Regions from separate parts of the Homo sapiens genome. Here region 2 is linked to region 1. Evidence: fine-mapped expression QTL. Tissue or cell type: whole blood. Region 1 holds a variant in brackets; the other region holds the start of a gene. All regions are shown on one strand. Distances are between the middles of the regions.

The links. PIP is the estimated chance that this variant, and not a neighbour inherited with it, causes the effect.
Region 2: GPRC5B starts here. The variant in region 1 is fine-mapped to the expression of GPRC5B in whole blood (TOPMed, PIP 0.99).

Annotation. Positions count from the first base shown.
Region 1 is chr16:19,801,866-19,807,142 of GRCh38, forward strand. All of the region lies in intron 7 of IQCK (IQ motif containing K), which reads left to right. Among named protein-coding and RNA genes, the nearest start is that of IQCK-AS1, 38 kb to the left of the region's middle. The variant G/A (reference allele first, on the strand shown) is at 3,154.
Region 2 is chr16:19,882,688-19,887,687 of GRCh38, forward strand. GPRC5B (G protein-coupled receptor class C group 5 member B) reads right to left here and starts at 2,161. Exons shown (of 4, transcript NM_016235.3): 1 at 2,040-2,161. RefSeq lists enhancers at 1-173, 174-904 and a silencer at 2,420-2,714.

The sequences.
Region 1 (5,277 bases):
TAGTTAGATAGAAAATAGATGATGAAAACAGCTCAGGATAAAAACCAAACACGTATGGAAAGGACCTTTAAACAATACAAATAAAAGGTTTTGTAGTTCCTCCCATATTTTTCTACAAAAAGCGGAAATTACAACTTAAGGCTCAGCACTGAGAGGGAGAGAGGTTTCTCCAAGTCGGGCAGCTGGCTGGGCTATTAAGCACGACAGGTTTTATTTTTTCTGAAAGGTCACTTGAAGTTCTCATTACTGGCCTTAACTTTCTTGTCTTCAATGTTGTGGCTGAAGACAAAGACTTATTTTTTTTTTCCAGGTAAAACATGCCCTATGGCAATTTGTTAATAATGTGGGCTCTAGCAGCAGACAGACCTGTTTGAATCCCAACGTGTCAGGTTATTAACCCATTTATGCCTGAGATTGTAATTTTTTGAATTTTTGCAACCAGACTTTGGTGACGACTTTGAGCAGTAGGATATAAATAACTCCCACGTGCTTAGCGTTCCAATAATGGAACACTAGGCATAAATGGGTTTTAATAACCATGGGCAGATTATGTAACTTCTGAGCCACAGTTTTCTGTTTGTAAAATGGGAGTAATAATTCCTGCCTATGAAGATCGAATCAGATGCTTCAGTCCACATAAGGAACATGGCACAGTGCCAAGGACATAGTAAATCCACAAGAAATATTGGCTGTTGTTGTTATTGTTGTTGCAGCTGTTGGCTCTATTTTCCTGAATAGGGGTTCTTTTTAAAAAGCCAACTAATGCCCTCCTTTAAGTTCTTCAAAGGCACAAAGCAGGCTCCCATCTCACCTTGGAAATCACTGATTTGTTTTCTGCTCCTATACTTTTGCCTTTTCCAGCATGTTACATAAATGGAGTCATACATCATGTAGCCTTCGAGTCTGGCTTCCTTCACTTGGCTCCATGCGTTTGCTGTTGTCCCACGTGTTTGGGTGTGTGCGTAGTCCCTTCCTTTTTATTGCTGAACAGTATTCCACTGTAGAACCCAGCAAGAGGAGAAACATGAAGGAAGGGGTTCTTAACTCTGCTGAGGAATAAACACATACGACTTTTACGTAAGACTCGTTTATTTGAACCTATGGATTGTGATGGTCTCGAGCTTCACTGTTCATCAAAGCCATCCACTGACAGATTTTGTTTTTAATTTCTGATACCTGGGGTCTTATTCCCCTGAGATTCTTGTTCAACTGGTCACAGTGAGAACAAGAGATAGGTTTGCTATTGTTGGCTTTTTTGTTTTGTTTTGTTTTGTTTGTTTGTTTTTTTGTTTTTTGAGACAGAGTCTCACTCTGTCACCCAGGCTGGAGTGCAGTGGAATGATTTCAGCTCACTGCAACCTCCACCTCCCAGGTTCAAGCAATTCTCCTGCCTCAGCCTCCGGAGTAGCTGGGATTACAGGCGCACGCCACTGCACCCGGCTAATTTTTGCATTTTTAGTAAAGACAGGGTCTCACCATGTTGGCCAAGCTGGTCTCAAACTCCTGCCCTCAAGTGATACGCCCACCTCAGCCTCCCGAGGTGCTGGAATTGCAGGTGTGAGCCACAGCATCCAGCCAGAGATGGGTATTGTTTAATAGCTCCCAGGTGACTCTAACATGCAGCCAGGATTGAGACCCACTGATGTATTGGAATTGACTTTGCTACCTACCAGTTTTATGATTCAGGAGAAATCACTGAATGATAAATCACAACTTTTTTTCTTTTTAGATGAAGAATAATAATAGCTGCCCAGTCTAGCTCACCAAGTTATCATGGAATTAAAATGTTTTATTTTTTATTTTCAGAGACAAGGTCTTAGTTTGCTGTACAGGCTGAAGTGCAGTGGTGCAATCATAGCTCACTACGGACTTGAACTCATGAGTTCAAACGATTCTCCCAGTTCAGCCTCCCAAGTAGATAGGGCTACAGTTGTACACCACCACAAACAGCTAATTTTTTTTGTAGAGATGGGGGTCTCACTATGTTGCCCAAGCTAGTCTCGAACTCCTGGCCTTAAGTGATTCTCTCACCTTGGCCCCCCAAAGTGCTGGGATGACAAATGTGGGCCACCGTGCCCAGTCTCTAAATGTAACAACACAGGAGATAGTGTTCTGTAAACTGTAGATGCAGAAATGAATGGTGTCAGTATGGAGGTGATTATATATCAGTGACTTTCCTATTTGAAAAGTACTGGAGGTTCTTTGCCAGGTGCGGCGGCTCACGCCTGTAATCCCAGCACTTTGGGAAGCCGAGGCAGGTGGATCACGAGATCAGGAGTTCCAGACCAGCTTGGCCAATATGGTGAAACCCTGTCTCTACTAAAAATACAAAAAAAAAATTAGCTGGGCATGGTAGTGGATGCCTGTACTTGGGAGGCTGAGGCAGGAGAATCACTTGAACCTGGGAGACAGAGGTTGCAGTGAGTTGAGATCACACCACTGCACTCCAGCCTGGGTGACAGAGGGAGACTTCATCTCAAAAAAAAAATAAAATAAAAAAGTACTTGAGGTTCTATTTCCTAAACAGAGGTAAAAGGTTTGTTGTGTGTATGTGTGTGTGTGGTGGTTTTTTTTGTTGTTGTTGTATTTTGAGACAGGGTCTCACTTTGTCACCTAGGCTGGAGTGCAGTGGTGCAATCTCACCCTACTGCAACCTCCACCTCCCAGGCTCAAACAGCCCTCCCAGTTCAGCCTCCCAAGTAGCTGGGACCACAGCTGTGAGCTACTACACCAGCTGATTTTTGTATTTTTTTAGAGACGAGTCTTGCCATGTTGCCTGGTCTGAAACTCCTGAGCTCAAGCGATCCACTCCCTCCGCCTCCCAAAGTGTTGGGATTACAGGTGTGAGCCACTGCACCTGGCCAGTATTTGTATTTAAAGAAAAACACAATACCAGTGTGGCTGATGGGCTGGCATTTAGCCAAACATTTCTCATTCACAATACTTTCAACCCAGGGTGAGCCCTGAGATGGCAGGACCAAAGAAACCTTTAGGAGTTGGTCTTGATTTGTATTATATTTCATCGTAAAGTTCCAACAATCGTTGTTTAAGCGCCAGATTCTTTTTTCCTTCTGCTTTCTCTTGAGTATGTGGCTTCCCCACATTGTTGGTCTGCTTTCCCCAGCTTCCTCTTCCTCCTTTCCAGAGAGGGGC[G/A]TCTCCTGCTGCAGCTGTTCCAGGAAGGGGGGTGGGGGTGCATTTCCTCCCTTTGTGTGAGCTCATTAGCCCTGTCTCTGGCTTTCCTCCGGGGACAGCCAGCCAACCAGGTGAGCCAGTGTCATTTAAAGGAGCACTTCCGTTCTCAGGCAGGGGTTGGTTGTCGTTTCTGGCTGACTTCAGATATGGCCCAGGTGAAGAGAGATGGCATCTGGCACAGAGAATGGCCAGCAGCTTGGTGTATGAGTCACATTTTCCTGGTAAATAGTATGCTGCCTAGATCTCCTGTGCAAGACAATTATTTTTTGATCCTTTGCAATTTGGGGTCTGATTTGAAGGCAATATAGCATCATAGTTAAGCAAGCAGGTGCTACAATGAGATGGATTCATTTGCTAATATTCACTCACTAGTAATTATTGAGTGCTTACAATGTGGCAGGCAGGCATTGTTCTGGATGCTAGGCAACCTGCAGGGAAGGAGACAAAGTCCCTGCCCTCATGGAGCTTGCATTCTTTCAGGAGACTGTAAACAGATACAAATAAATGCATAGTAACATAATGTCAAAGAGTGTGTCAGTTAGCTATTGTCACAATAATGCTGCATAACAAATCACCCCCAAACTCCAAAACTCAGCAGCTCACAATATACATTTACATCTTATAACCACACCATGGGTTCTTCCTGTGTGCTGTACAAACAAAAGCAATTCATAGAAACCAGGCATTGCAGTAAAGAAAGAGTTTAATTGACACGAGGCCAGCCATGCCACATGGGAGACAGAGTTATTACTCAAATCAATATCCCCAAAGGCTCGGAGGCTAGAGGTTTTTCAAAGATAGTTTGGTGGGGTGGGGGGGCTAGGGAATGGGTGCTGCTGATTGGTTGGGGATGAACTCATAGGGGTGTGGAAAGCAGTCCTCATGTGCTGAGTCTACTTCTGGGTGGGGAGCCACAGGACTGGTTGAGTCACAGCACAGGTCTGGGTGAGGCCATCCGGTAGTCAGAAATGCAAAAGCCTGAAAAGACATCTCGGCTACTATTTTAGATGGTGAATTTGGTCAAGGAAGGCCTCTCTGAGAAGGTGTTATTTGATCTGAGACCTGAATGAAGTTCATTCTAGGCAGAAGGAAAAGCACATGCAAAGGCCTGCAGGAGCAGGAGGGTGCTGGATGTATTGAGGACCAGCAAGAGAGTCAGTGTGTAAGTGAGCTGGAGCTGGGCATGGTGGTAGAGGCTAATGGAGGCTAAAGTGAGGGGATGGCTTGAGCCCAGGAGGTTGAGGCTACAGTGAGCTATGATTGCACCACTATACTCCAGCCTGGGTGACAGAGCGAGACTCTCTGTCTAAAAAATACATTATATATATATTAGAAAATAAAAGTGAGGCCAGGCTCAGTGGCTCACACCTGTAATTTCAGCACTTTGGGAGGCTGAGGCGGGCAAATCACTTGAGTACAGGAGTTTGAGACTAGCCTGGGCAACATGGTGAAATGAACTCACTACAAAAAATACAAAAAAAAAATAGCTGAGTGTGGTGGCACACACCTGTAGTCCTAGCTACTTGGGAACCCGAGGTGGAGGATGGCTTGAGCCCGGGAGGCAGAGCTTGCAGTGAGCTGAGATCATGCCACTGCATTCCAGCCTGGGTGACAGAGCAAGACCCTGTCTCAAACCACTCCCCACCCCCCCACCCCCCAAAAAAAGAAAAAATAAAGCAGTGAGCTAGAGGTGAATGGGAGAGGAGATGAGGAAGCAGTCAGGGGACAGATCTTGTAGAATCAAAGGTGAGCTTTCATTTGGATGCTGGAACTTTGGATTTTATTCTGACTGATAAGAAATGATGGGCAGAAGAATGACATGATCTGAGTTTTCATCAGGAAACTGTAGTCAGCATCCACAGTGACTCCCCAATAACCCCCACCCCCTGGGATTCCCATTACTGGGGAGTCTCTTCCCACATTGTATCAGGGTTAATATGTGTGGCAGTAGAATATGGCAGAAATAATGGTGTGCCACATCCAAGATTAGGTTATTAAAGACACAGCAGTCTTGTGCTCACTTGTTCTCTCCCTCTGGGATCATTCCCTCTGGAGGATGCCAGCTGGTCTTGATCATCCCTATGG
Region 2 (5,000 bases), 81 kb after region 1:
GATCCCATGGCCTCCCACTCAAAACCCTCCAAGGGTTCACTGGTCCAAACAGAATAAACCCTAAACTCCTTTCCATGACCCAAAAGATCATGATCTGGCTGGTCCCTACCATTCCCCTATCCCCACCCCCAAATCTGCCTACAGCTCCAGCCACAATGGCCTTTGTTCAGTTCCTCTAAGCTCATTCCCACCTCCAAGCTTTTGCAGGCACAGTGCCTTCCTCCTGGTTCAGTCTTCCTCCAAGACCTCCCAGCGGAGGGCCCCTCTTCTAGCTGGGCTCCACTCAAATGTCACTCCCGGAACAGTCATCTCAGGTACATACACCCCTGTCACCTTCTTTTACATCACCCCATCTTATTTTCCTGGCCGTCCTCACCCCAATCGGATTTCATAGCCATTTGCTATGGGTTTGTTTAATGTTTGTCCACTCACTTCCCCAGCCCCGGGAGAGCAGGGGTTTTGTCCGTTTTATACAAGGCACCCAGTTCTGTCCCTGGCACGTTTCTTGAAATAACATATTAATCCAGTAAAGATTCTGAGTTTATCTTTCTAACAAAACTGCCTGTCTTGCTGCCTGTGCCCCCAAATGGCGGCTCCTTCCTCCTGGAATCTCCTTCCCTTCCCAACTCAGCTGACCCCTTTCCAGGCTTAGAGCAGGGAGCAGATAGCAAACTGTTCACTCCACAGTCTTAGATACCAAACTGGCCGGGAGGGCTTCCAAACGACAGATGCCAATTTGCATTCTATTTACATGTCATTTGCATGCAGTTTAACTCAAAGCCTGGATCCTCCGCAAGCCCGAGTCCCCACCGAAGAAACTTCTGAATTAAGAAGGTTCCTTGGCTGAAGTGCCGGGGTTTTTGTGCCAGATCCCTCCCCCACTTCTCTTGTCTTTGCGGGGTCCCCCAGGGCTTTCTGGGCTCTGTTCAGGTGCCCCCCGGCCTGGTGCAGTTGGGCGGCCAATGTGGCGCGTGGGCTGGGGCCCCAGGCGGGGACGCCGCTGCCCGCCACACTCCAGGGGCCTTTGTCCGCGCTCCAAGGAGCCGCCCCCTTAGCGAACGGGGGACGGAAAGGGAGGACTGGCTAGGCCTGGGTGTGACAGAGCAAGGACGGAGGAGTGAACCCGCTGCACGGGGGAGATTTCTGGGGCAAGGTCGTTGGCCCCTTCCCAGGCTGTTCAACCGGCTGCCCGGGGCCAAGGCGGGTGCGGGCTCCTCCCGCGCGCTCCCTTTTCGGCCTAAGCGCTAGGGACCCCGGGATGTGTGGGGTCCTTGTGGGGCTGGAAGCCTGTGTCCCCCAAGGAGAGGGGACCGAGAACAGGTCTAGTCCTTATCTCCAGCCTAGCCGCCTCTTCCAGAGGTCCAAGTGCCCCCTGTCTGGAAGGGAAACGCCACTGCCCCCCCCGCCATTGTATGCAGCCGCCCCCTCCTCCCCACCCCTCCCCGTCATTCGTCCCCAGCCCAGGTCTCAGCTCTGCCATCTCCCACCGCCGTGTCCCCCCCTCCCCTTGCTGAGTAATGCGCACTCAAGCCGGCTGCGGGCTTGACCCCCAGCCCCCGCGACAGGTGCGGCTGTTCACCCCCAAAGTCCAGCCCTTGTGCCCCCGGCTGCGTCTGCCCTGTCCACAGTCAGCCCCCAACGCGGCCCCAGGACCAGCCCGCAGCTCCTCACACATGACGAGTCACTAGGACACGGCTGGGCTCCTTTACCCTCCCAGCTGCCCTTCACCTGTGGTCGCCCCCACACCCTCCTGGGAGACTTGGATCTCTACCTGGTCCGGGCACAGTCTCCCTCCCCCCGTAAAGGTCCCCAGATCCTCCCCTCCCCCGCCCACCCCTCTACGGCTCTGCTCTCGTCGCACCGTGGTTCCCCTCGCCCAGATTCCACATCTCCCCCAGCAATAAACTCCCTGGCTTGGGTTGGGGGGGCGCTTAGAAAAACACAAGAAGCGGACCCCCCAATTCTCCCAAATCCACGGCGGGAAAAGTTTCTGGGGTCCCCACAGCGTCCTCCACTGCATCGGCGCAGCTCGCACTTACCGACCCCCGCGGCCCCGCAGCGCCGACGCTCCAGCTGGCCTTCGGCCCGAGTCACATCTCTGCGGCGCGGCCGCGGCCCCCGCTCCACGCACGCCCGCCTGCGGGTCCAGCTTCACTGCAGCGCCTGCCAGAGTCGCTGCCGCGCGAGGCGCCCCCTGGCCCGGCCCGCGCTGCTGCAGCGGCCGCGGCCCCGCCCCCGCCCCCGCCCCCGGCCGGCCCCGCCCCCGGGCCTCCGAGCCCCACCCCCGGTCCCGCCGGCGGTTCCGCGCGGGGCTAGGCGCCGTCTGCATGCACCCCCGGAGCCCAAGCTCGTAGCTTCTAGCCCGGATCTCAGAGACGATTCCCCCGACCTCGTGCCCCCAATTCGGGGACATTCCCCCCACAACGTCAGTGCGCCCGTAAGCAGTCCAGACGAGCCGGGCAACTCCCCAGGGTAGATCCATTTGCGGGAACACTCCCCTAGCCAATACACTTACCGAGGGAGGTATCGCGACCCAGGGGTCCCAGCGCGGAAGCCTTCCTGCCCCCAGGCCACGCTCCAAGGGGGGTTCATAAGCAGTAACTTCCCCGAAACACACCAGCACCAGGTCCAGGACGCAGAGAGGATCGATCCCGCCCGGTGCCTCTCGAAGTCACCAACGCCCCGGTATACACCTAGGCGCACACACACCGCTAGGCCTCCTCCAGGCAGGTTCCTCCTGGACACACTCTTCTCTCTCCTCACTGCCCAACTCCCAGATGTCGTTGTCCGTTTACGCACACTGGGACCAACACCCGCTTCCTTGGCCCCTCGAAACACACACGTCCAGTCGGTGCACCCCTCACGTGGGTCCCTACGCAGGATCGCCACCACCCCTACCGCACACATCACCCACGTACGCACATGTCCACTGCCCTTCAGGGCTCACACACTCAGCGGCCCGGGCCACTGGCCGTGCGCTCCGCAGACGGTCAGGGCACAGCCCGGACGCGTGTCCGCTGGGCGGCCGTGGGACCTGCTTGAAGGAGGGGTCCGGGGCAGCCGTCTCTGAGTCCCCCTCACCCCGTCCTAGTCCTCAGGCCTCTCCGAGGTCGCATTGCTTCGACCAGGCCTGGGAGCTGCGCTCCGGCACCCCATATGGGGCTGGTTCCCTGGGTGACCTTCAGACCATCAAACCCTGGCAGTCTCAGGTGGCCCCCCGCCAAAGCCAGAAACAGACCTTTGAGCAGCATCCCTTCCCTGCACTCCAGATTCTCAGGGTGAGATTTCCTTTCTCCCTCCGCGGTGCGCCCCCCAATCTCTACCCCCGTCGCCGCAACCATCCCAGCCACATAAGACCAAAAGGGATAGGACGGACCCCTGCTCCCCTCTCCCGGGGGCTGCAGGAAGGGGAGATGCAGAACACCTCCTTCTGGGAATAGTGGCAGCCCCTGATCTTTGGGGACCGTGGCCCTTCCAGATACTCCCATCCCTCCCTGCCAGCCTCCCAGTTCCGGTCCGGTTAGGCCACATCCCCCTTGGGCACGCATCTCTGGGATACCTTTTATTATATTCAAGGGAAAATGGAAAGGAAGAACCATAATGGCAGTTTTTCGCCCCACTCCTGGTTTATTTGCATGGATCCTCAGAGCCCAGAACAGTTCCAGGCACAGTAGGCGCTCATTAAATGTTTGCGGGACGACCCAAAGTGTGTTCCCGCCAGACTGCGCAATTGGAAAGTGGATGGGCACTGTCACCTGGTGGCAGCTCTTGGAACTGACGCCGAGATCCTTTTGTCAACGTGGGCAAGTTCACTTTCGTGAGCCACATGTCCTCAACGTCTGCAAAATGGAGATCTTTTTCATCGCACATGCCTATTGGGGTTGTTGTGAAGGTCTAACACGTGCTAACATATAAAGTGCTTCACGCAGGGTCTGGCATGTGGAAAATCCTTAATATGAGCTGATTAACATTGCAGTTACGGTTATATTCCCTTTCCCACTTGTTTTACAGAGGACCCTGACTGTGATGGTCAGTTTCACTTTGGGTGATGATACCACAGGGAGCACAGAGTGAAAATGAAGGAGGACATTGAGTGGCAGGTGCATTCCTTCCCTCCAAAAAGTTCAAACACCCATGGATGATAATAATAACAATAATAGCTGAGTACATAGTGCTTTCTGTGTGCCAGGAGCTATTCTAAGTGTTTTAAATTCTTTAATTCATTTAATCCTCCCAGTTACCCTTTAGGCCAGAGACTGTTATTCTCCCTGTTTTACAGATGGAGACACTGAGGCCAAGAGGGGTTAAGTACTGCCCCGGGGTTAGACGGTTGGCAAAGACAAAATCCAATCCAGGCCATCTGGCTCTGCAGGCCATATTATCCACCAATGGTTAGACTGGTGTCATTTGCTGTCAGGTCAGACATTGTCACAGAGGAACCTCACCTCCCAGGAGAGTTCACTGGGTCTCCAGCCTTGGAGAGAATGGCTCCAGGAGGTCCAGGGAGCCATGTCAGGCTCTCAAGTGCCCAGTTCACTTTGTCTAATGAAAACCAGTGGCTTCCCTGGCTCTATTCCTCACCTGAGAAATGGTCAGTGCACTGCCCATGGCTTCCCACTGACAAATGTCATGGTATGTGTATTAATTTCATACTGCTATGAAGAAATACCCAAGACTGGGTAATTTATAAAGAAAAAGAGATTTAATGGACTCAAAGCTCCACATGGCTGGGTAGGCCTCACAATCATGGTAGAAGGCAAAAGAGGAGCAAAGTCACGTCTTATATGGTGGCTATATGGTGGCAGGCAAGAGTGCATGTGCAGGGGAACTGCCCTTTATTAAACCATCAGATCTTGTGAGACTTATTCACTATCATGAGAACAGCATGGGAAAAACCCACCCCCATGATTCAATTACCTCCCTCCAGGTCCCTCCCATGACATGTAGGGATTATGGGAGCTACAATTCAAGATGAGATTTGGGTGGGGACACAGCCAAAC